Homo sapiens: one gene and its partners. The protein of the gene in region 5 purifies or fractionates together with the protein of the main gene of each other region. This does not show direct contact. Each region holds a gene or a part of one and is shown on either strand. Other genes may lie near its edges. The genes, in order: NKTR, ROBO1, TGS1, RAPH1, SRGAP3, CCDC85C and SH3GL2.

Evidence for each region.
Region 1: the proteins of SRGAP3 (region 5) and NKTR purify together in Homo sapiens (affinity purification with mass spectrometry; one large-scale study listed by BioGRID and IntAct). This does not show direct contact.
Region 2: the proteins of SRGAP3 (region 5) and ROBO1 purify together in Homo sapiens (affinity purification with mass spectrometry; one large-scale study listed by BioGRID and IntAct). This does not show direct contact.
Region 3: the proteins of SRGAP3 (region 5) and TGS1 purify together in Homo sapiens (affinity purification with mass spectrometry; one large-scale study listed by BioGRID and IntAct). This does not show direct contact.
Region 4: the proteins of SRGAP3 (region 5) and RAPH1 purify together in Homo sapiens (affinity purification with mass spectrometry; one large-scale study listed by BioGRID and IntAct). This does not show direct contact.
Region 6: the proteins of SRGAP3 (region 5) and CCDC85C purify together in Homo sapiens (affinity purification with mass spectrometry; 3 studies listed by BioGRID and IntAct, with this or other methods). This does not show direct contact.
Region 7: the proteins of SRGAP3 (region 5) and SH3GL2 purify together in Homo sapiens (co-immunoprecipitation; one study listed by IntAct). This does not show direct contact.

Annotation. Positions count from the first base shown.
Region 1 is NC_000003.12:42,603,686-42,607,185, reverse strand, and holds part of NKTR (NK-tumor recognition protein), read right to left. Parts: intron 1-3,500. UniProt on the Homo sapiens protein: PPIase that catalyzes the cis-trans isomerization of proline imidic peptide bonds in oligopeptides and may therefore assist protein folding. Component of a putative tumor-recognition complex involved in the function of NK cells.
Region 2 is NC_000003.12:79,761,499-79,764,998, forward strand, and holds part of ROBO1 (roundabout homolog 1 isoform a precursor), read right to left. Parts: intron 1-3,500. UniProt on the Homo sapiens protein: Receptor for SLIT1 and SLIT2 that mediates cellular responses to molecular guidance cues in cellular migration, including axonal navigation at the ventral midline of the neural tube and projection of axons to different regions during neuronal development.
Region 3 is NC_000008.11:55,786,946-55,790,445, reverse strand, and holds part of TGS1 (trimethylguanosine synthase), read right to left. Parts: coding exon 3,386-3,500; intron 265-3,385; coding exon 147-264; intron 1-146. UniProt on the Homo sapiens protein: Catalyzes the 2 serial methylation steps for the conversion of the 7-monomethylguanosine (m(7)G) caps of snRNAs and snoRNAs to a 2,2,7-trimethylguanosine (m(2,2,7)G) cap structure.
Region 4 is NC_000002.12:203,532,502-203,536,646, reverse strand, and holds the start of RAPH1 (ras-associated and pleckstrin homology domains-containing protein 1), read left to right. Parts: upstream 1-1,345; 5' UTR 1,346-1,536; intron 1,537-2,415; exon of another isoform or gene 2,416-2,438; coding exon of another isoform or gene 2,439-2,487; exon of another isoform or gene 2,488-3,259; coding exon of another isoform or gene 3,260-3,282; intron 3,283-4,145. UniProt on the Homo sapiens protein: Mediator of localized membrane signals. Implicated in the regulation of lamellipodial dynamics. Negatively regulates cell adhesion.
Region 5 is NC_000003.12:9,243,147-9,246,646, forward strand, and holds part of SRGAP3 (SLIT-ROBO Rho GTPase-activating protein 3), read right to left. Parts: intron 1-3,500. UniProt on the Homo sapiens protein: GTPase-activating protein for RAC1 and perhaps Cdc42, but not for RhoA small GTPase. May attenuate RAC1 signaling in neurons.
Region 6 is NC_000014.9:99,520,708-99,524,207, forward strand, and holds part of CCDC85C (coiled-coil domain-containing protein 85C), read right to left. Parts: intron 1,534-3,500; coding exon 1,426-1,533; intron 1-1,425. UniProt on the Homo sapiens protein: May play a role in cell-cell adhesion and epithelium development through its interaction with proteins of the beta-catenin family. May play an important role in cortical development, especially in the maintenance of radial glia.
Region 7 is NC_000009.12:17,757,066-17,760,565, reverse strand, and holds part of SH3GL2 (endophilin-A1), read right to left. Parts: intron 1-3,500. UniProt on the Homo sapiens protein: Implicated in synaptic vesicle endocytosis. May recruit other proteins to membranes with high curvature. Required for BDNF-dependent dendrite outgrowth.

The DNA of each region.
Region 1 (3,500 bases), about 33 Mb from region 5:
GGATCCCTCACATGGACAGCCCTGATCTGCTGATTCTGAGTGCTGTGTGACAGAAAAGCAAAACTTTTATATTGTTGTAAGTACTGTTATTTAACCTTTATGTTAGAACCAATCTTATCATTTAGCCTAACTAATACAAGGTATCTTCATATGAGGGTAAACTACAGTCACCAAAAGTGATTACGTATCAGAAGGCTGAGGTGGGAGGATCATTTGAGACCAGGAATTTGAGGCTACACCACACTATGATCATGCCTGTGAATAGCCACAGTACTCCAGCATGAGCAACGCAGTGATACTCTGTCTCTAAAAAAAAAGCCAAACGAAATTTTTTTTTTTAGGGATAGTGTCTCACTATGTTGCCCAGGCTGGTAGGTTTCTAACTCCTATGCTCAAGCAATCCTCCTGCCTTGGCCTCCCAAAGTGCTGGGATTACAAGCATGAGCCACTGTGCCTGGCCAAGAAAAAAATAAAAATTTAAAATAAAAGTAAAGACAAAATATTAAAAAATGTTAAAAAGTGATTACATAAAGATTAATTGGTGTTTAATAAAATAAACATTGCTGAATTAAGAATCAGGCTTCAATTCTTTGTACAAGTATACATACATAGGGAGTGAAAGCAAGAATTCAGGATTTCACTTTACAGCACTGTCTCTCGGACTTTAAGATACAATCTCTGGGAACAAAAGGGACCAAAATCAAAGGTCTACCTGCACAATACCTAAATATGAAAGCCCCTTAACTTGACTTAGTGTCCATACTCCTGCACATGCAATACTTAAAGCAACTTAAAAAAAAAATCAGATACTGTGCTATATATACTTAACAAATACAGACTGCTCTACAAGAACAGTGATAGAATTTTAAGAAACACTGCATTATCGAAAATCACATATAAAAATAACTATTTCCATATAAAAATGGGAACTGGGGGGGACAAGGGAGTTTCCAGTTGCAGTAAAAATATTTTTTTCTTTAGGAGTATCAATAATAAATTTTAGCTATAAGAGGACGTTATAAAATCTAAACATCATTGAGGAAACCCTACAACTGACCAAACCTCATTTCTGCCTCCATTCCCAGCACTGTCATTAGCACAGTGGCCTTCAAATCAGTTAGGACAAACAAGAATGACTCAGAGCAGCAGAGCTATCCAACTGTTCTCTCCCACGCCACTCTTCCCCACCTGCTTATCCGATTGTTATACCAAACAGTAGTGTGCCTAATTAAAATTGTGCTCCTTAATCCACCCTATTAGAGTAAGTTCATGTTACTCTAATACAATCTATAAGATGGCATTATTTAATTACTCTTCTCAACAATCTTGTTATGTAAGCACTATTACACTGGAGTCCTATTATTAGGTTAATAATATAACAGGTTAATGAGCATATACAGTGCAAGTCATTTAAATTTCAGGCCATTGCATCTAGTCACTCTACTCATGAGCTTATGACCCAGGGTGACCTTGAGAGCGGAGATGCATTTCTCCTATTCCCTCAGAACAAACCAGATCCCATATACCTCACTCGAAGTATGAGCTATTTTGAATGTGAGTCTAAAGTTTAGTTTAATTTTGAATATAAGCAAATTTTCCTGTCCTGTTAGCTTTGGAACCAAATTAAGAACAAAACTGTATAGTAGTTCCATTTCACAAAGAGGTTGTTAAACGGCTTGACCAAGGACACAAGTAGTACTCAAACATTTGCCTGAATCCTTTGTCGCCTCTTAAGACTAATTTCTTGGTATCACTTCTAAATACTTTACAATGTTTGCTAAAAACACATTTTCCAGTCTGTTTTTATGAATCTTAAGCAGTAAAGCAAATCTAAACATAACTAATTATATTAAATGTATACAGTTAAACATACTGACTAAAAGACATTGTCAGAGTGGGACAAGACCCATCTATTTGCTATCCAGAAGAAATCCACTTTAAATATTATACAGAAAGGTTAAAAGTAAAAGGATTGAAAATGATATACCATGTAAACACTAATAAAACGGAAGTAACTATATTCATATCTGAGGCAAAGGAAACTTCAGAGCCAGGAAAGTTACTAGGAATATAAGGTGTCATTACATAATAATAAAAGAGTTCACTAAGAAGACAACAATCCTAAATATGTATGTACCCACCTAAGAGCCTCAAAATGAATGATGCAAAAACTAAGAGAACTTAAAAGAGAAATACGGCCGGGCATGATGGCTCATGCCTGTAATCCCAGCACTTCGAGAGGCCGAGGCAGGTGGATTGCTTGGGCCCAGGAGTTCAAGACCAGCCTGGGCATCATGAAGAAACCCTGTCTCTACTAAAAATACAAAAAATTAGCCAGGCATGGTAGCTCACACCTGTAGTCCCAGCTACTGGGGAGGCAGAGGCACGAGAATCACTTGAACCAGGAAGGCAGAGGGTGTGGTGAGCCAAGATCATGCCACTGCACTCCAGCATTCCAGCCTGGGCGACAGAGCAAGACTCAGTCTCAAAAAAAAAAAAAAAAAAAAAAAAAAAAAAAAAAAAAAAGGAGAGAAATAGATAAATCCACAATTACAGTTGTTATAGTTGCAGACTTCAATACTCTTCTCCTGGTAATCAATAAACAAGTAGAAAATCAGCAAAGATATAAAAGAATTGACCAACACTAATAGCCAACTGGATTTGACATTTATAGAACACACTACACAAAAATGTACATTCAAGTGCAGAATGTACATTCAAGTGCACAAAGAACGGAAATCATGTGTGTTCTCTAGCCATAATGGAATTAAATTAAAAGTCATTTGAGACTGTCTCAAAAAAAAAAGGTATCAAATCAACAATCTATGCTTCAACATTAAGAAACTAGAAAAAGAACAAAATAAAAATTGAAGCAAGCATTAGAAAGAAAGAGAACAATGAAATTGAAAACAAAAATAGAAACAAAATTCAATCAGATCAAAATCTGGTTCTCTGAAAATGTATAATGAATAAACCTCTCGTCAGACTGACAAAGGAAAAAGACAAAAGGAAGAATTATCAATATCAGGAATGAAAAGAGACACCACTACAGACCCCACAGATATTAAAAGAGGCTGTGACAAACAACTCTAAGCACATAAACTTGACAACTTAGATAAAATGCACCAATTTCTTTAATAAAAACCACAGGCTAGGCACCGTGGCTCACACCTGTAATTCTAGCACTTTCGGAGGCCGAGGTGGGCGGATCACTTGAGGTCAGGAGTTCAGACCAGCCTGGCCAACATGATGAAACCCTGTCTCTAATAAAAATACAAAAAAATTAGCCAGGGGTGGTGGCACATGCCTGTAATCCCAGCTACTAGGGAGGCTGAGGCAGGAGAATCGCTTGAACCTGGGAGGCGGAGGTTGCACTGAGCCGAGATGGCACCACTGCACTCCAGCCTGGGTGAAAAAGTGAGACTTCGCCTCAAAAAAAAAAAAAAAAAAAAAGTTGTGTAAAATCCACTATTTAGTTAATATACTCAAAAAGTGCTAGT
Region 2 (3,500 bases), about 71 Mb from region 5:
TTCAAGGGAACTTGTTTCACTCATTTTTGTGTCTGCTAATCAAACTTGTCATAATAATAAAAAGTCAGAGTCATTAAAAGCTCCAAGTACTCTGCACAGCAGCACCTCAACTCTAAATGCCATGTTCACATGTGATTACTGAAATTCTGCTCTTGGCAAATCTGCCTTTCTGATGCAGGACTCTTGTACTTCAGTAAGAGTGACTCATGTGATCTAATTTACTATACTCTAAGCAAATCTTTCTCTGAAGCACGGTAATCTGGGAAGACACAAAATAAGATCTAAAAAGCTTTGCAAATGGCTCCTCCCCCAAATGCTAAATTAAGTGCCATATTGATCTGACTGAATTGGAGAGCAATTGTTGTGATAAACTCCCTGTTCCTAGTTACACCTGGAATAGATTCTGTTAATATGTGGACTCAAGTGCCCCACCCCCATATATTCTATTGTAGTAATTCTGATGGGGGATCCTGGGACTGGTGTTTTAAGGGCTACTTTTTTCACTTTTAAGATTTATTTGGTTCAATGGACAAAGTTTGAGACATACTGCTTCACAGAATTTAGAGTCTGTCTTAGTATCTTTAGGGTGCTACAACAAAGTGCTATGGAATAGGTGCCTTGTAAACAATAGAAATGCTTTTCTCATAGTTTTAGAGGCTGGAAAGTCCAATATCAAGGCGCTGGAAGATTTGGTGTCTGGGGAGGACCCACTTTCTGCTTCATAGACAGCCATCTTCTTATGTTTAGTCGGGGGGGAAGGGGCAAGAGAGCTTACTCAGACCTCTTTTATAAGGGCACTAATTCCATTCCTGAGGGCTCTGCTTTCATGGTCTAGTCATCTCCCAAAGGCCCCACTTCCTAATTTTAATTTCAGCATATGAATTTGGAGAAGACACAGCATTCAGAACATAGCGCAGTCTCATAGTAGAAACGAATAAATGATTACAATGGAATTTCAGAGGCATTATTAAATGATCAGAAAGGGAGGAATACTTAAACCTATTTTCTTAACATGAAGGTCTTCACAGAAGAAGTGACACTTGTTTTGTGTTTTCAAACATCGCTAAAAAAATAAGAAAGTGAGAACCATTTGGGGCAGAATTCTGGACAAACACACACACACACACACACACAAAAGCCGAGAGGAATGAAACATCCTGAGTGTTTAAGAAAATGCAAGTAAATTTTCATAGTAATTGATAATTCTGAAGACTGAAAAGAAGAATTCATGCTTCATATCACAGAGTACCTTCAATGACTAAGGAGTTTAGAAATTGTCATTTTTGCCCTGACAGATAGCTCGCCAAACTTGTTGCACATGACTTCAAATGGCTGATCCCAGGAAGTGGAAGTAAGAATTGGAGGGCAGGCCCATGAGGAGAAGAGGTGAAGTTCAAGAGAAAAATCATAATTTTTTTTTTCTTTTCACTACATGATCATAGGGAATGAGGCAGAGGGACATAGCAAAGAGGAATGTGTCTTGATGCATGATGTGCTATTTACCACTTGGAAATCTAAAGAGATAAGCAAGTGTGGCAGGGAGGATGATACCTGTGGCTTTGAATGCTTTCCTTTAGGACAGTTTCCTTTAAAATGCTTGTGATGCATTTCTAGGTGGAGATGAAATTAGATCTTTGGAAATATAGGTATGACAATCAGGAGCAATGCATGGACAAGAAATATAAAATTTGAATGTCATTACTGAAACTCCGGAAATGTATCACAACATCTGGGTGACTATCGAGTGCGAAAAAATAATAAGGGCAAAATGCAGAAATATAATGAAGAAATAGAAATTTATAGTTGATGGATAATGTATGTAAAAGTATATAAGGTAAAGGCTCAAAAAATGTTAGCTTACTCCTCTTAATCCCTGAATAAAGACCAAATTAGACAGCAGATGTTATTGGAAATTACTTGGAATTTCAGAGGTAAGGAACAGCAATAGGGTTGGAATAATAAGAAAAATTTTATGGTGGAGAAGGAACATGAACCACCCTAGACAAATGGATAGGGTTTGGCCAAATGAAGAAGATAATTTTGCAGATTAGAGAAGACACGTGTGCAGAAATGGAAAGGCAGAAAAGAACAACTGGCTGAAACTGACGTACTGGATCCTTAGCAGGCATCCTGGCTACATATGCACAAATTTCAAAGAAAATGGAAAGCCCCTCAGTTTTCCCCAAGTGCTCTGACCCCCAGAGATGATACAGGCAGGGTGGCAGATAGGGGTGGGGTATATTTTCTGAAAAAGTTATTTACTGTTTATGAGATCCTTGGAAAGTAACTGTAAAAGTTTGCTCTTGGAGAAATGCAGATAATGCTTTGGACATGAAAAAGATATCAAGGAGATTAAAAAATTATGAGTACTAAAATAAAATTCAAGGAATAATCAAACTCCTTGTTTAAATATGGGGGAAAATAGGTAGGTCCAGTTAACTGAAGAGAATGGCTCCCTTAAAAGCAGCAGTATGACATACTAGAAAAGCATGTACTCTGTCATGAGAAAGAACTTGTTTTTAATCCTGGCTCTGCCCCTTTTTGGCTGAATAGTCATGTCTATTTTCCTTAAACTCTCTGAGCTTCATTCTCTTCATGTGTTGTAGACATCTAATAAAGCCTACTTTGAAAGGGTTATGTGGGGATTAAGTGAAATATCTATTGCAGGTACGGTGACTAACACTGTTTCTACAGTTTTATCCTATGTAGTTTTGAATTAGTCAGTTAGCCTTCTAGGACCTCAATTTCCTATAGAATTAGGAGAATTGGCACTAATATATTTTAGGTACAAATATGAATACATTAACAGTAACATTGCTCACTTCAACAGCAAGTTTAGAGAGATAAATGATTATGTGACCAGGTCATAATCTAGCCTATTGTATGCTATCATGTTTTTGTCTGTGGTCTCAGAAAGAGGAAAATCAGTTGAGTTTAGGTGGCAAGAAGGAGCTCATTCTCCAGCAGATTGGTGGAAGCTCACCTCAAGATACATTTCAAATGGTGCATTGCACCTGCTCATTCATCAAGCTGCCAGGGGCTTACTTTACTGCCTTGCTTTTTTTCATTTAAAATTCACATCTTTGTGGTGTCTAGAGTTTCTCAGCTTTGTAATGAAAGTAATACATTAAATCTTGCTTAAATAAAAGTAGTTCCTAATGTATTAAGTATAGATGAAGGCCAAAAAGTGAGATTTTATAGCTAAGCACAACACTACTTTCCAAATAGTGCACACAAGTGTATAGCTTCCTTTTCATCTCTGGTCAATGTTATTTTGTATTTGAATTGATTCTACTATGTTATAAGATAAAAGAAAATTATACAGAACAATGCAGTTCTCTTTGGGGAGATATTAGGGTATTTGTTCTTTATTTTGTGCAGTATAGGGTAAGAGAAAGTTGGCATTAAACCTTTGGGACTCCCTAGGCAGCTGTTGAGTCTCTCCCCTCCTCCCATGCTCAGCTCAGTGCTATATCACTGGAAATCACTAACCTTCATAG
Region 3 (3,500 bases), on a different chromosome or scaffold from region 5:
AAGGCTCAGAATCTTACCAGTAGATCCTGCCTCTTCTTACATGATTACTGGTGTTGTGAACATAACAATCATTTAATAACCACTGGCTTATGCATACAAATGCTTACTCTAACACGCTCTGGTGAGAGGGGTCTCATGTAACTTACCTCCTCTTCAGTTTGCTTGGCTTATGCTCAGGTGGGTCTTCCTCACTTTCATCTCCATCAGTACCACTGGCATGTGGTCTGTCTTTGCTTGTGTTTGCTCCTGAAGACTTCTGTGAATCTAAAGAGGCAGAAATATTGCAGTAGCTTTTCCCCCTTGGTTTGACAACTTTTCTGCTATTTGCAAAGCCAATGAAAATATTTTAGCACCTTTTCTACAATGAACTGTACATGTGCATCAAAGTGCCAGCTCACATCTACCTGTTTGTGTCTACATGCAGAGTCTGAGCATTTTAAAAATCTTAACTATAAGGTTTGTTAAATTAAATTTAGCCTAAAACTGTCCATGTATACATTTTAAGCTCAGCTTAAAGGTTTTTCCACATGTAGTGAACTGTAACCTAACTGGTGGTATAAAAAGACTGTAACCTACTCTTGTATCAAGCACAGTTTTGGCTAATCACAGGCAGCCAACTATTCAAATGGTGTTCAAGTAAGGCAAAAGCTGGGCTGTAACCAATCCAGCTGTTTGTGTACCTCACTTCCACCTTCTGTACGTTGTACATCATTTTTCTTTTTCTGTCCATAAATGTTATCCCAATCATGTGGCAGCCCTGGAGTTGCTCTGAACCTATTCTGGCTCTTGGGGCTGCCTGATTCGAGAATCGTTCTTTGCTCAGTTAAACTCTATTAAATTTAATTTGTATAAAGTTTTTTAACAGGTTTAAAAATGTTCATGATCTAACTACTTAAAAAAAAACACAACAAACTAAAACTACTTCTTCATAGCTGCCCAAATCTATACAAATTAACCCACAAAGCTGCCTTTGTGATAGCTGTTAGCAGTCACATTCTTATGGAATTTTAATTGAAATGACCGTAAAGGGGGCATAATCACATTGATTAAGAAGAATTTCTCTTCATTTGCCTTTAATATAGTATGAAAGTAACATTAATAATGAGAGTAACAAAGACAATACTATCTTTAAGAAGAGTTCTTTAACTTATGGTGACAAAAACTGAGGCACAAATCTGTCTTTGTTCTCTATTTTGTCAGACTGGAAGAAAGTGGGTGGCTGAGACCAGGAGGAAAAAGATGTCTGCAGGGTAGACAGTGGGAAGCTTTGACTCTTTCAGAAAAGCACCAACCACAAAGAGTAGAAAACATACTTACATAGAAGCATAACCTATACCTTAAATTTTGAACTCAAGGGAGGATCTAAAACAAATCAAAATCTAAAACCCTCAAATTCATCCTGATGGCAGACAAACTGGAGTTATTACAGAAATGGACAATCTATAAACGTAAGTAAGGGAACAAGCAACAGAAGGCAGAGACTGTGAGACTTACTGTGTCTGCCAAAGAAAAAAGCAGGCAGATGAGGGAGGAGAACCAAAGAGGGTAAATGAGACTGTAAGTCAGAGGCCAAAACAATGCCCAATATGTATATTATAAACTTTATGGTCAAAATATGTACAGAAAGGTATCAGGAGAGTATAGAAGAGTATCAGAATACTAATATAAAATCTTCAGATAAAAAAGGATGGCTGTGCATGGTGGCTCACGCCTATGCACTTTGGGAGGCTGAGGCGGGAGGATCACTTGAGGTCAGGAGTTTGAAACCAGCCTGGCCAACACGGTGAAACCCCGTATCTACTAAAAATAAAAAAATAAAAAAATTAACTGTATGTGGTGGCACACACCTGTAGTCCCAGCTACTCGGGAGGCTGAGGCTGGAGAATTGCTTGAGCCCCGGAGGCGGACCTTGCAGTGAGCTGAGATAGTGCCACTGCACTCCAGCTTGGGTGACAGAGTGAGACTCCATCTCAAAAAAAAAAAAAAAAAAAGGATGAAAATGTATCACCAAAATAGAAAGGAATGAGAATATTATACTGAGGTAGGCTCCACTTATAAGAATCTAAGAATATAGAGAAAAAAAGCAAGTTGACAGAGCTCTTTAGAAACTGTCAGCTGGATGAAGTATTATCAGCAATCTGAGATAAGCAAAGCAAATCTGATTGTTAAGTAAAAGGTCAAAACCATTTGTTTCACAAAAGAGTAAGGCTGAGAAGAAAGTTCCTCTACACTAGATGTCTTCAGCATGTAACATCAGGATGCCAAAACTTCAGGATATGCAGATGTCACAGAAATTTCCTCCTCTCCCATTTTCCTGGTGCTGTTAATTGGCAGAAGCCTCTCCCCAGCAAGAGCACTGATAGGGTTTGGATGTTTGTCCCCTCTAAACCTCATGTTTAAATGTGATCCCTAATGTTGGAAGTGGGGTCTGGTGGGAAGTGTTTGGGTCATGGGGCAGATCCTTCATGAATGGCTTGGTGCCTCCCCATGGTAATGAGTTACTGCAATATCTGATTGCTAACAAGAGCCTGGGACCTCCCCCCTCTCTCTTGCTCTCTCTCTTGCCATGTGGCATGCCTATGCCCCTTTCACCTTCTGCCATAATTGGAAGGTTCCTGAGGCCCTCACCAGGAGTTGATGCTGAGACTATGCTTCCTGTACAGCCTGCAAAACTGTGAGCCAAAATAAACCTCTTTTCTTTAAACATTCCTCAGTCTCAGGTATTCCTTTACAGCAATGCAAAGTAAACATTCTCATCGCACCGTACTCAGATTAACTCCTTTCAAAACACTTCTCATTGGCATTCTCTAGTCCTGAGTGGCACCAGTTTGCACAATTAGCTTTTTTTGGATCAGTTATTCAGGAATCAATCAAGTTCCTTATCCTGGATATTTTATTGATGAGAATCCTGAAATTAACCATTCCAGTTATAAATTAATATTGTGCCCCATTGAGATCTTTTTTTCACAGCAAGACTTCACTTGTCCTAAGTGAATTCCACATATGACTCATAAGACATTTGCCTAATGTCAAATGTACATTCTCAATTGCTTTCTAACATGCCTCTTATAAATTCATTTGCTGTGGAAAACTAAAAGTTCCAAGCTCACTTTATATTAGATTTCTCAAGAGATTCCACATTTTCCTTCATTAGCCACCAAAGTACAAGAGAAGGAATGATACTTTTGAGAACTGCATGCAAATATTCTTATTAATAGAAAAGGATAACTTGTGATATGAAAACAGGATGGATTAAATCATTTCATTATTATATGAAATGTACTTGGTATTATTTAACTCTACAATAAAGGATTAGTAGTTATTTTGCTAAATGAATTCATTTTGCTAACCATTACATGGCAGAATAAATCTTGGTTAATCTTACCCTCAGCTGGTGGGTCTGTGTTTGTATTCCCCGATGAGTTGCTTTCCTCATTGGTTCCTCCATTACGTGGTTCACTTTGGCCGGAAGCAGGGCACTCTCTTTTGCTACTAACTTC
Region 4 (4,145 bases), on a different chromosome or scaffold from region 5:
TTAAAATACAAAAGGGCAGTTATGTTTCAAAAGTACAGATATCTCAAGTGTGAAAGGCAGCCAGTATCTGTATTGTATGGTTCTAAATACCAATTTGAAACAGATTGTGTACCAGTTTGGAACAGATTGTACAAAAAAGACTGAAACCACTTGAAAGTCCTCAAGAATATCAGGAAGTAAGAATGTAATTAACCAAACCAGGATTTGGCCCCAGGACAGAGAAATGAACACTCTCATTCTTAGAGAGGGAGCTAGGATTTCAGGAATGTACAGTCAATGCTTTGTGAAAATTTAAATAAATTCTTAGCAAGCAGATGGGAAGACATGAAAAAGCAATGTTCATTGCAACCAATTTCAGGTCACACTCCCAATTTCTCAATTGTTTTAATGCTGTCAACAAACTTGCTTTGCATGTAGCCAAGCAAACATAACTTAGTTCCATTTGTTCCTTTCTTTGATCAACTTTAGGTGAAGGTCAAAATAAGGACATACTTAAAATCTAAAAGTCTGCCGAAGTCAAGCCTGCATCTAAAGAGGCAGCAGCTGAGCTTAGCGATAAGGAAAAATGCCGACACCTTACTACTACACAATTCCGATGGGGTGGGGGGACAGAAATTAAGGAGGCAGGATTAACAGATTTCGAAGTTTAAAAAGTAAAGGTCATCGAAATGTCCCGTTCCTAAGTTTCCCAATACATTCCATGAAACTGCAGAGACTTTTTGGCCAAAATGGGATTTCCTAAAGAAGGGCCTCACAGATCTCAACGACAATGGTCCTGTAAGTGACCGAGCCAACCCCGGATGCGTTTCTGGAGTCTCTGAATACACGGACAGCGTATAAAGGTGGATGCGTACAGCTCCCTGACAGAACTGCTGGAGGCTGCTGTGCCTCCCAGGGCGCTAGGACAGAGGCTGCTGGGCCGGCTTCCTATGAAAGGCGAGCAGGGGGTGGGGCAGCACTGGGATTTTCCTCCCCACTCATTCATTCTCTGATTCACTCGTTCCTGTAGGCGGCTCACAGGGACTTGCGGAGGAAAGGCGAGGCACGAGCGGAGCCGCGGTTGAGTGCGGCCGGGCGCGGCCGGGCGCCTGAAGGGAGGGCGGAGGGCCGGCGCGGGGCGCGGGCTAGGGAAGGGCGGCGGGCGCGGCGGCCTGCGCCGGAAGTGAGTGGTTGGCGGCGGGCGGGGGCGGCGCGCGGTCCCGCGCGAGTCGGCCCTACAGTCGGCAGTCCGGCCCTCAACCCCGCCTTCTGCGTCTCGGCTGGACGCGAGCACACTCGGCTCCGCCGCCGCCGCCGCCGCCGCGGGGCGCTGCGGCCGCCCCGCCCCCGCTCCCGCCGCCGCCCGCCAGTCAGTCAGTCAGTCAGTCAGTCAGTCAGTCAGTCAGTCACTGAGCGCGCGGCGCGGGAGCTGCTGGCAGTCGCTGCGTCTCTGGCGAGGGAGCGCCGCGCCTGGGGAGGAGGCGGAGGCAGCGGCTGGAGGAGCGCGAGCGGCGGTTTCCTTGCCCGGGGCCGCGGGAAGGCCGACCGACTGCCGCGGTGAGTGGTTAGCCTCGCCCTCGGGGCCAGGGGGTAGGGAGCCGGCTGGGCGCGGGGCCGTGAGGCGCTCCTGCCGCTCCCGCCTCCATTTTCCCGGCGCCCGGCCCCGCCATCCGGGTGCGGTACGGTCGGCGGCAGCCTGGGGCGGGGTCGTTGCCAGGTTGGGGATCGGGCCGGGGCTGGCTGGACCGCTCCCGGCTGGTGGATGGAGGTCGGTGGGGCCTGGACTGCACCCTGCGCCCCTGGGGACCGCGACGGAGGGAGACAATGAGATAAGGGGCCGCCTGGGAGGGTGCGGTTAGGCTTCTCCGACCCAGCACCGGGGGCTGGTGGCCCGGGACCGCAGGGAGGAAAGGACTTTCCCCCGCCCAGCTGCAGAAACCAGCTACTGGATGTCGGGTTGCTTGGGTTTCGATGCCCCCATCTTTCATAGATGAGTTCAGTGCAGAGATTTTGAAAGGCGGGGCTCCTTCTGTGTCTTCTTTCTAATTAAACAGGATAAGTAATTGCTTCATTGCTTTTTAACCGCGTCTCCTCTTGCGGTCTGTATTATACATTCCCGCCGGAAATCCAAACTGCAATTCATGGGGGGGGGGGGGGGGTGGACGGAGGGAGGGGGCAGTGTGATAGTATTAGGATGCCTTCGTGTTAAGACAGGTTGAAAGATGTGGTTTTCTTAAGGCAGTGACTTAGGGTGTCCCCACTGTGTGAGCTGGAAACCGCATAAACCTTATTGCTTACAAGCTCGAAGACATGGTTTAATATGAAATAAGAGCCTTGAGGGAGGGTGTAAGTGTTACATGTGTCTTGCGTGTGTGCATTTCTTAAATTCTTTGGGAAGATCCGTTGGGGAAATCCGGGAGAATGGAAAAGTTCTTCACTCAATCTTCCAATAAGGGTTGATGTTGTCTGCAGCATTTCTCAGGGAAATGTGGAGAGCTGCTTATGTAGGTAAAGTCCACCGTTAAGGAACAGTAAAGGTAACGGGTTAGGGATGAGGCGTGATCGGATTATTAAAGAGTCAGTCCATGGGGATATTAAATTCAGCAAACATTTATGGAATACCTACTCTGTCAGTTAGGCTGGGTGACACCAGGTGAACAAGCATGGGGTGGTGGAAAGAGCTCTTCGGAGTGGGGGAAACCGTACGCCCTGGAATTGGCTTGCAATGTGAGTTGGATAAGCTATTGAACTCTGCAGTACGTTCCCTATCAGTAAAATGGGAATAACACCACCTGTTTACCTCCCCAGATGTTTTTCATGTAGATTAAATGAGATAATGTATGCAAAATGCGTAGCACCTTGCCTGGCATAGAGGTGTTTAACAGCACCTTAAATTCCTTTCCTCCTCGGGGTGGTTTTTTTGGGGGTGCGGTGCGGGGGGTTAGTGAATGTAGGTAAGTGTAATACAGTGAACTATATAGTAAAATGTTGAGGTATAGAATAGGAGAGCGAAGAAGAGAGATTAATTCTAAATTGAGGGAGGAATGCATGGAAGCCTCGGCATTTAAGTGAAACCTTTAAGGATGAGTAGGATTTCAGCAGATTCAGATGGGGAGGAGGACATTTCACATGGTGGTGCTATCCTTTGAGAGCCGAATTGAGGGGGAGGACCTTTGGGGGAGGGGCAAAATAGAGACGCTCAATAGCTTTTAACTCTTGTTGAGTCTGACCTTCAAAGATTGTCTCCGTTATTTTGCTTTTTGTGTGGTGAATTTCCCAGAAACCAGATGCAGCCCTACTCAAGTAAGTACAAAAAGCTTAATTCATGATTTTTTGGGTTAGACATTTTGTATAATTTAGATTGCTGTCTCCTGTTTGAATGTAATAAAGAATTATTTGTAGATGTTGCCTTATGATAAACGTTAGCTTTATTTGGTAGAAGCAGCAGCTTATTTTTCAGACTCAGAGGTCTCACTAAGATTATAGAGTATGTGACTGGGTGAAAGGAGTGGAGTAGTGGGCACTATTGGGTGTGTTTTCACAAATATTTAACTCTTTATTTTCCAAAGAGGTGTTTTTAACCATTGTCTTTGAGGATGATTATGTCTTTTGGTTTTGCTGCCCTTTGGTGCTCACCCCATAAATACTTACTAGATTGGCATCGTGGATAACTGTCACACTATTCACAGATTCTTGGTTACACATTGTAGAATCTCATGGCTTTGGTTGCCTTGGTTTGGAAGTAATTGAATGTCAACATTAGTATTGTTAATCCCAAACACTTAATTTTAGGAAAATTAATATTAGTGAAGCAAGATGTGACCTCAGGCAGATAACTTATCTTGGACTCTTAATTCCTTTACCTATAAAATGAGAAGTTTGGATTAGATCACTGCTTCTTAAACTGTTTCACTGAACTTGAGAATTTCAGAGATTCTGCAGATGTTTGACTTTAATCTCAATAAAAATGTATTTTAAACTTATAATAATAAAAAGTGGCCACTGTATGACGTACACTGTTTTAAACACTTTATATGTGATAATTTATTTAATTCTCGCCATAACCCTATGAAATAGAGTCTATTATTTGAGAAAATAGGCACAGACAATAAGTTGCCCAAAGACTGCAGAGCTATAGTGGCAGAGCTGGATTTGAAACCGGGCAG
Region 5 (3,500 bases):
GGAGATATGAGGGGACCACTAATTCTGCCTAGAAGAGTTTGGAAGGCATCGTGGAAGAAGGCATCATTTGAGTAGACATTGAAGGGCGATCAGAAGTATTTGAGGCAAATAGGAGTGGGAGGCAGGGGGTAAGGAGAGTAAAGGCACAAATGGGAAAGACCTGGAGGAGGGGAAGGGTATGGAGGATTTAGAGAAAAGGGATTGGTCGCCAGGCATGGTGGCTCACGTCTGTAATCCCAGCATTTTGGGAGGCCGAGGCAGGCGGATCACTTGAGGTCAGGAGTTCAAGACCAGTCTGGCCAACATGGTGAAACCCCGTCTCTACTGAAAATACAAAAATTAGCCAGGCATAGTGGCGCATGCCTGTAATCTCAGCTACTTGGGAGGCTGAGGCACAAGAATTGCTTGAACTCGGGAGGCAGAGGTTATAGTGAGCCAAGATTGTGCCACTGCACTCCAGCCTGGGTGACAGAGAGAGACTCTGTCTTAAAAAAAAAAAAAAAGAGAGAGAGAGAGAGAGAAAAGGGACTGGTTTTTTGCGTTTATAAGAGCACAAGCCTATCACAGAGAAAATGACTGAAGATGAAATAGGAAAATTGGCTGAGGCCCCTCACCAAGGCTTCGTGCGGACTTCAACTTGTAGACCAGATTTTGCAAACTGGTGGCCCAACAGGCTAAAACTGTTCTACCGACATGTTTGTTCAGGAAGCATAGTGTTTTTAAATTTTTAAGCCACCATTTAAAAATCAAGAGATTTTGCTTAAAAATCCAGATTCCCTTGAAACACTGAAGGAACTGACCTTTCTGGGCTCACATTCCTGCCTAGGAAGAGCAGGCTGGAGCAGCATCTGCCTTCTCTAGAGGAACTCCCCACTTGGCCACAGCCCCCACTACTCCCCTCTGTTTGCCCAGCCCAGCCTGCTTTCTTCATTTTATCCTGTTGAAACCAGCGAGCATTCCTAAGGTGATCTTCTAATCACTGCATGATATACGCTCTAAGATTCAGTTCGTTCTGGCTCTCGAAGTTTTTGTGTTTGGGATTTTTTTATTTCTTTCTCTCATTTTTATCACCATATTCCAAGAAAACTCTTAGAAAGCAAAGAATGTATCATATACTTTGTGTCTCTCACAACACTCAGCACAAGACTAGGTACAATGTAGATAATCAACTTTTGTTGAATTAGTGCAGAAATGAATGAATAAATACATGCCCCTCTGTGGTCATCCTCCATACCTGCCCTTCTTCCTCAAACCTCTAGACTTTTGCTACTAAGAAGATGGATGAATATGTAACAAAAAAAAAAGCACCAAAGTCAATCATTGCATTTCTATTTCAATTTTCTATCAGGTTGCAATGGAAATAGGAACTCTGAATAGATGCAGAACTAACCATCATGTCTGGCAGCAAGATGAATTAGAGCCCCAGGATACTGAGAAAGCCTGCAGATAAGATCACCAAATATCATCAGTGATCTTTGAGGGAATTGTAGAGAATAGGATAGGTGCCAAAAAGCTGGAGCCTGGCAAATGTTCTGATTTTCAAAAGGGGAAAAATGTTATGGTTTGCCAGTTCCAGACTAGATAATATGATATCACTCCCGGCAAGGTTCTTAAACAGATTTGTTAAGGACACTTATGAGCACCTAGGACAGGAAGTAATGTCCATTTGGCACCAGCATGGGGTCACCAAGAACAAGTCATGTTAAATGCATTTCATTTTCTTCTCTCTGACAAGGCTCCTAGGCTAGTGTATTGGAGAAACACAGCAGACTTAATATACATGGTGCACTGAGGGGGTGAGCAGCACCAAAGGCTAATTCAATCCTTGGGCTATGTTAATAGTAGTATTGCAGACAGCAGAAAGGAGGTGATAGTTGTTTTCTGTCTTTGGCCACATCTAGAGAACCACATTTAGAACTCAGTGCCACTCTTGAAATAGGATACTGATAATATAATCTTTTGGAGGTCCTTTTGGCAAAATCTCTTTAAAAACATAAAGCTCTCATCCAGATTTCTGGCATCTGTTGAAAAATTGAAAAATCTGTCTGGGCCTACATTCCTAAACAGCAATAATTGGTTGAACCTAAGTAGTGACTGCCCATTTAGACAGAACATGTACTCTGAAGTCCGTCACAATCACCACCACCACCCTTCTACTGCCTGCACTGAGGTGGTAGGCCAGCTGCCACAAATTGTTTCACGTGGCCAACTTTATCCATTTATTCTATCTGCCAAGCACCCAATGACACTGAGGTTTGCAACCCAGGATGCAGTAGAGACAGAGGAGAGTGGAGATGGTAAGTGGTAGCGAACCATCCTATTATATGAGGATAATCATTGTCAGGGGTTATATTCCCAGGCTCCACACACCCAGTGGGCAGTCCAAGGGAAGACACATCTGTCTTATTTTGTGAAGTCCAAAGGGAAAGGAACTATAGAACCAATAAGTAGATGAGAGACATATTCAATGCAACATAAGAAAAAATGCTTACAAGGGTCAGGCACGGTGGCTCACACCTATGATCGTAGCACTTTGGGAGGCCAAGGCGGGTGGATCACTTGAAGCTAGGAGTTTGAGATCAGCCTGGCCAACATGGTGAAACCCCGTCTCTACTAAAAATACAAAAATTGGCCACATGTGGTGGCACGTGCCTGTAATGCCAGCTACTCGGGAGGCTGAGGGAGGAGAATCTCTTGAACCCAAGAGGCGGAGATTGCAGTGAGTCAAGATGACATCACTACATTCCAGCCTGGACGACACAGAGAGACTCTGTCACAAAAGAAAAAAGAAAAAATGCTTACAAGAGCCAGAGCTGTCCAAAGATGATAGACTACGTGGGCTTGGGAGGTAGTGAGTTCCCCATCACTAGAAATGTGCAAGCATATGGTTTACTACTGCTTCATAATCAAAAGGCTTCAAGTATCTGATGAGGCAAGAGAAGGCATGAATCCTTCTATTTTACAATAGAAAAAATACTGTTCTAAAACATTCCTTTGTGTTAGGTCTATAAATTCTTGAAAAAGACATAAAAGGGAACAAGTCAACAAAGAACTCAGCACTGTTTTTAAAAATCAAAAGTTCCCTTCACAAAATTCACAAAGCACAAAATCTGTCTGACTAGGTGGACTTTTTGCATCCCACTGGCCAGATGATTCCCAGGGAGAAAGGTAATTGGCCTCGGGCACTGTTTTTGGTGACTGGTCAAATGTTCTTCAGAGGCATGCAACAAAGGCAACGGGATGAAAGTAAGAGGGTAAACAATGGAACTCCATCAAGAGGCTGCCAGTCCCCCCACAAAACTGCCATCTGCTGCTGACATCAATCCTTCAAGGGGCAGCTTCGGGCAAACAATGTGTCAGGGAACACAAGCCTGGGAGAAAATCGGCCTTGTGACCTTGGGCAAGTCATTTAACATTAACTGGGCCTCAGTTTCCTTGTCTCTGAAACTGAGTTCACACTAACCCTACTGTACATTGTGTGGGCCAAGAGTAAGTGATGT
Region 6 (3,500 bases), on a different chromosome or scaffold from region 5:
CCTCTAGGCACACACAGGCACCAGGACGCACTCACCATGGGGCCCTGGCCATCCACCCCACCCCTGTGAGCCTCACTTCCTCCTCTCCAAAGTAGGGGACACCCCTTCATGCACAGAGCAGTCTAGAGGAAAAAAGGAGGCAAGAGGAACAAACCCTTTCCCAAGGCTGCCTCCTCCAGGAAGCCTTCCTGAACATTCCTGAACTCTGACAGCATTTTATCCGCACTCTCAGGCCTTGAGGCTCGGCCCATGCCTGAGGTGTGCTCTCCAGAGGCCTGCAGGGAGACAGCATCTGGCGGGCCTGGTACATGTGAGAGCTGTGCTTGCACAGCACTTCCCAACCTGCAGGCCACGCGGAAGACTTCAGGACATAGCACTGAGTAACTGCTAGCTGCTATTACTCCCTCCCACGATCTGAATGAATGAGAGGCACGGGGCATGAAGACTAAGGAGCCAGCCCCGTGAGGGCATCCCTTGGCTTTTCAGAGCCCTCCACCATGAAACAGTTAGAGCCTCGTTCAGCCACGGGACTCCGGATAAATGCTTGGAATATCGGCCATTGGCGGGCTTTGCTGCCTGCACAGGCTCTACAGCTGCATTCCTGGAGAAGGTGGAAGGGCAGCAAAAGAGAAATCGCAGAGCCAGCAGCCAGCACTGAGGCCCAGCAAGCTCTGCACCGGGGGCCTGGGGTCAGCCTTGTGGGCAAGGGGTGCAGGGAAGAGAGCAGGAAGGGGCACAGCTGCTACAAGCGCACGTGCTGCCCAAGAAGCACCTCCATACACGGCTCTGCAGGTGCCGCAACGAGAACAGCCGATGCTTCCCAAGCATCCGCTACACACCCACCAAGGCTCCTGGAGGCGTGAAGTCCCACAAGGCAAGGCCCCCAGTCCTAGGAGGGCAAGTGGGCCTGGACTCCTGTGGCTCCCCACTGCCATCATATCTATCTACAGGGCACAGTCCTGAGCTAGGTTCCACTTCCCGGGAGCTGGCTCCAAGCCGCCCACCCCATTCCCTCCAGGCCAGGTCAGCCAGGTAGGGGCAGAGGATACCCCTGGAGGCATCAGGCTGGTCATTTCAGTGCAGAATCCACAAACCTGAACCCCAAGCTCCAGGGCTGGCCGGGTACCCTCTCCCCACCGTGGCCAAGGAGTGGCACAGGCTAATGAGCTGCTCAGAGGGACAGGGGCTAGGCACGGGCAGCCCTGCGCACGTGGCCTCTGGAGACTGCCCCGCACCTCCAGCAGTGTCAACCCACCTGGGGCTCCGCCTCTAACTGCCACACTGGATGGGACACGGACACAGGGCCTAGGGCTGGGGCTGAACTCAGGCACCCAGATCCTTGTGCCCCTCCGGGCAGGTCACTGGCCCGCCTGAGCCTCAGCCCCTCATCCAGAACATGTGGGCTTTTTTGGGGTGCACACTCACGTTCTGCAGGGAGTCCTGGTAGGAGGGCGGCAGGGACGCAAGCTGGGACTCCGAGTGGTAGGGCGAGAAGCCTTTCCGCAGCGTGCGGAACTCTCCGGAGCCTGCCTGCTGCAGGGGAGAGAAGGAGAGGGGTTAGACGGAGGGCCAGGCTGAGGAGGACAAGGGCCCTGGGCATGGCTCCTCACGGCAGCAGGGGCTGCTCAAAGGCACGGCCCCGGAGGACCCCTCCACCCTCCCCTCCACACCGCTTATCCATCCCCCGAGCCGGGATCAATCGATCTTCACTCTCCCCAGCTCAAATGTCAGCGATCCACTCTCCAACGTGGGCTTTGTAAACATTTGTTGGATGGCTGAATAAACAGAATGAATGAATGAATGAAGAAGAGCCAGTGAGAGCGAGTGAGGAGAGAGTGTCTCTCCCACCCCGTGACTCACCCTGGCTCCTCCGCTCCAACTTCCTGCCCTTGGGTCCCTGCACAGACGGCACCACTCACAGGGCCTGGGCCAGCCATCGGCAGCAGATGGGGCCACATCCACAGGCGAGGCCTCCCACCTCCCACGGGTTCGGGGCTCTCTCGGGATGCTCCGCCCAGGCTGCCTCCCCCATCGGATGGGCAGGGAGCTCCTAAAGCAGGTCCTGGGTGCTGCCTCTGAATCCCTGAGAACTCGTGCAAGCTGTGGGGTTGTAACTAACTCCTGCACACAGGAGGGAGGGAGGAAGGCTTGGCCTTAGACCCTTTGCTTAAGAGCAAAGCAAACACCACCGACCCCCAGAATTTGGGGCTGGGGCTGGGACCAGGAGCCAGAATGAATCCACAGGTCCCATAAACTTCTCTGGTCAGTCCCACAGTGCCCCTCCCCTGGCCCGGCCCAGCAGAAGGCCCGGCCTTTCTTTTCTTTCTGCATCACTAAAGGGTTTTGGGTGTTTCTGGCCGAAACACCCTTTTCTACTTCAAAGGAACTGAGAGAAAGTGGCTGGGCAGATAAAACCCTGCGGAATGTCCCATAAATCAGCAGGCTGTTGAGTTACCCAAACAAACTGCAGGGGCAGGGGAGGCCCAGGCTGGGGCTGGGCTGGGGCAGGGGCAAGGAAGGCAGGACAGGCTGCAGCCATGTCTGGGGTCCCAGTTCCACTCACCAGCCCCTCGGCCTGGCTGTGAAAGATCCCACACACACCCTGCTTGCCTCCCTCAAAAGCTGGACCTGGCCCCGCACTTCTCACAAGCCCCAGCCTCACTGAGGTCCAGCTCTTGTGTTCTCCCAGCCCCATCAGAGCCCTGGCCAGGCCCCCCACTGGGGCTGGGAGGTCTCAAGAGCTTGGCTCAAGGGCCAGCAAACAGCCGTGTCCTGCGGGGGTGAGGAGGCAAGTGGATGCTCTATTACCAGCTCCCACGGAGCCAAGACAGGAAAGCAGGGATCCGGCACTGACTCCCCTCATTAAATAGCCCACGCCCACCAGACGCCGGTCAGCCAGGGCAGCCGGGCACTGGAGGCTGGGAGCTGCTTCCTGGGCCTCAGGGAGGACCTGGGTGTGGTCCAAGGTCAGGGAGGGACATAAAGGAGAGACAGAGAAGTGGGAACCAACCTTCCTGCAGGGCCCCCAAAGTGTGATGGGTTTTAGATAACCCTGGCGAGCATCACAAAGGGGTCTCAGCACGGGGGCCTTGGGCACAGCCCTGAACCATCAAATGGGACTGCCATGCCCTGACCACGGCATTAACCCTGGCTGACCCTGCCTAGGTTAACTAGAGGCACTCACGGCCCGCAGGTGGAGGTCAGATCAAGGAAAGCCCCCTCCCCACCCACCAGGTACCAAAAAGAGGAAGAGGCTACAGCCCCCACCCCTAGGCCCAGCACTCACCCTCCCCCAACCATGAGTGACACCCCTCCCCCCACCCCATCAGAGCCACCCATGCCTCTCTGGGTCACCTCTCCTGAGAGATGTACCCCTAGCTCCACTTAAGGGCGAAAATTCCAAACCACCTGATTTTCTTGGCCAGGACTCTGCAACAGTAAGAGAGTTACAAAATCTTCTCCAATGGAGAATGCATTCTAAGCCAGCACACACTCTGAAT
Region 7 (3,500 bases), on a different chromosome or scaffold from region 5:
AAAAGGCTCCCCCTTCAACTATGAGAAACTTTTCCATAACCTGCTGTACCTAGTGGTATATAATATATACCAGTATATAATATCAGTATATACCAGTATAATATCAGTATATACCAATATATACCGGTATATAATATATACCGGTATATAATATCAGCCTTGCATAAAGTAAGCCTCCTCCTTTTCCATAATCCACACATTAAAAGATTTTATCTTTCAGTTCAGTTTTTCAATACTTAATAATTTTTCATTCCATGGCAGTCATATTACTGTGTGTGTTTGCTATTACTAGGATCAACAGAGGAAAACAAATTTTTTCTTGTGAAGTTATAATGATATAAAATTATCTTTAGAAGGATGCAATTTCAAATGTGCCTGTCTACATATAAATCTTGTATAAATATCCTTTTGATTGATTCAAATTTCAAAGATCTTTAAGATTGAGTGTGTACCAGGTAGTGATTAGCTTAAAAATGCTCAGTAGCCCCCTGGAGTTGTGCAGTACACAACTTGTGAAGCCATATGTGAAGGTCCTAGTATTAGCAAAATTCCAAACAACCACTATGTACTCAAGTCATAGAATGTCTTATGCCAGGGAAATGGATCAAAGGTGTGTATGGAACAAATATGCTGAAACTCCATGGTACATGTGTGATAGAAGTACAAATGTAGATCTCCTGCTGCCTATGTGATGGGAATTAAGGAATTAGATGACAAATGTGTCTAAATATCCTGTAGTTATGATGAGAAGGAAAATCATTCAAAAAGCCAAGGTTTCTAAAAAAGAGTGCCATAGGAATTAAATTTTCCAATGGCTGTTTGATATCCTGATGTCATCTGCTGTTAAGGGGCTGACCAATTTCTAAGGTTCCCCCATCTCTGTCCTTAATAATTATAACAATCATCACCATAAGCTGTCTTCTGTTTGTCAGAAACTGTTCTAAGGACTATAAATATCTTTACACACTCAATGCTCACAAACTCTGTAATGTATATGAGAAAACAGATACAGAGGGGTTAAGAAACTTCCCCAGTTCTAGTTCCAGTGTGTGTGTTCTTAATGACCATCCTATACTTCTTGAAAGCAAAAGCTCTTCCTAAAAAGACAGGCAACAGAGGCATCTCCCAATCTGAAAGAGAGGCCAAGTCAGAGCTGGAATATGCTTTGTTCCCTCCCTAAGATGGGGCTGGGGACCTGGCAGTAGCCGGTGAAACAGCATCAGCAGGAAGGTACCTGCCATCCCATATTCTGTTTTTATTTTGAAACTTCTCAAAGTCTGTGGAAGCTTCATCCACAAGACTATTCCATCCTGGGCCTCTCTGGAAGGGAGGCTCTGCAATGCTGATCTGCTGAACCACAGGCCCTCAGTTTCACGGGTTTCCCTACAGAGACTGGTACCTGCAGTGTCTATCCCACCTGGCCCACAGGGAGGTGAGCAAGGAAGGCTGTGAAAGCTAGTTTCTCATTTTGGCTACAGAACCCCCTTCCCTTTTAAGCTCTGTGTAGGGAGCCCAACCACTCATGTAGTGTAAACAGACACCACTAGCTTGGCTGAAGCCAGTGGTCTCAGGGAAGACCCAGAGACCCTGGGGATACCAATATTAGATTATTACATTTGGTCCCCAGGGCAGGACTCCATCTTAAAAGAGAAGTAGGAATAAAAACTATTCCAGTGTCCCTTGTGACTTGTCTAAAGAAAGAGCTCATCCCACCCAGATGTTTACCGACTTTGTGCCCATTGAGGCAGACTCCTTCAACACTTTTGGTTACCTAGTCCAGGCATCATTACAGAGCAAGTTCTACCTAAACCCTTTTGACTACAACATAAAATAACCTTCGCTTGAAATCCACCACCTCTGAAAACAACTTTATTCAATACAGTTACATTTTTATTTCATTATCAGGAATTATACTAAAGAGGGACCCACTTTTGGCAAATCCATTCCTAGGCCCTTGCTACTGACTGCAATTTTTTTTTTTTTTTTTTTTTTTTTTTTTTTTTTGAGACAGGGTCTTACTCTCTCCCCCAGGCTGGAGTGCAGTAGAGCAATCTCAGCTCACCGCAACCTCCTCCTCCCAGGTTCAAGCGATTCTCCCTCCCCAGCTTCCCAAGAAGCTGGGACTAGAGGCACGCACCACCATGCCTGGCTAATTTTTGTATTTTTTGGTAGAGACGGGGTTTTGCCATGTTGGTCAGGCTGGTCTCGAACTCCTGGCCTCAAGTGATCCATCCGCCTTGGCCTTCCAAAGTGCTGGGATTACAGGCATGAGTCACTGCACCAGGCATGGCTGCATTCTTACAGATAATTACTTGATAGACTTCATGGACATAAGAGGAAGAGACCAGGGGAGCATTCTGTTTAACGCTTTAATTTATTAAATGTCCACACCTGTGGCCTAGAGAAGGGAAAGGAGCTCTTTAAGTGTGTTATGAGGAGAAAAGTAGTTCCCAAGGCCATTAATCAGAGGCTTTCTTTAAAAAAGTACCAGAAGAACTGAATGGTCCAATGATTAGTCACATTCTGAAGTCATCTGCCAGTAGGAGGCTGACTAATTTCTAACTTCTCTCCACCTCGGTCCTCCATAATAATGCCCAGGACTCTTTTGCTAAACTACACTGTGTCAGCCAGAGACAAGCTGAGGGCCATAACCCCATGAGACCCCTGAATGTGCCTTGTTATGCACTTGGCAGAAGAGTTATTTATATACCTAAGCTGGTAATATCCAAGTACATATTCTCTTAGTAACAGGCCTGATTAACTTAGCATAAAGAAGATTTCCACTTAAGTAACTTATTATAACTAGCAATTCCCATAAGCTCCCAGAATTGAGCTTATTGCCATTTGAGAACAGTACAGTTTAACTTTGAACTTATGACATGTAACTGTTATTTTTCTCAATGTCCAAAATTTCCAATTACTATTTGAAAGTAAGTTTTGATGCATCCTAAATTACAAGAATTTCTCATCTTATAAGCTCCTGAGCCTCCGTCTTCAACTAACCTTGCCTGGGATTGGTGTGAGGAGCCATTAGGGAAGGCTGTTTAAAGAAAGTGAAACTGTTCATATCCTTCGCCCACTTTTTGATGGGGTTGTTTTTTTCTTGTAAATTTGTTTGAGTTCTTTGTAGATTCTGGATATTAGCTCTTTGTCAGATGAATAGATTGCAAAAATTTTCTCCCATTCTGTAGGTTGCCTGTTCACTCTGATGGTAGTTTCTTTTGCTGTGCAGAAGCTCTTTAGTTTAATTAGATCCCATTTGTCAATTTTGGCTTTTGTTGCCATTGCTTTTGGTGTTTTAGACATGAAGTCTAATGCCTTGCCCATGCCTATGTCCTGAATGGTATTGTCTAGGTTTTCTTCTAGGGTTTTTATGGTCTTAGGTCTAACATTTAAGTCTTCAAAAAGGGGGCAAAGGATAGGAACAGACACTTCTCAAAAGAAGACATTTATGCAGCCAACAGACATATGGAAAAATGCTCATCATCACTGGCCATCAG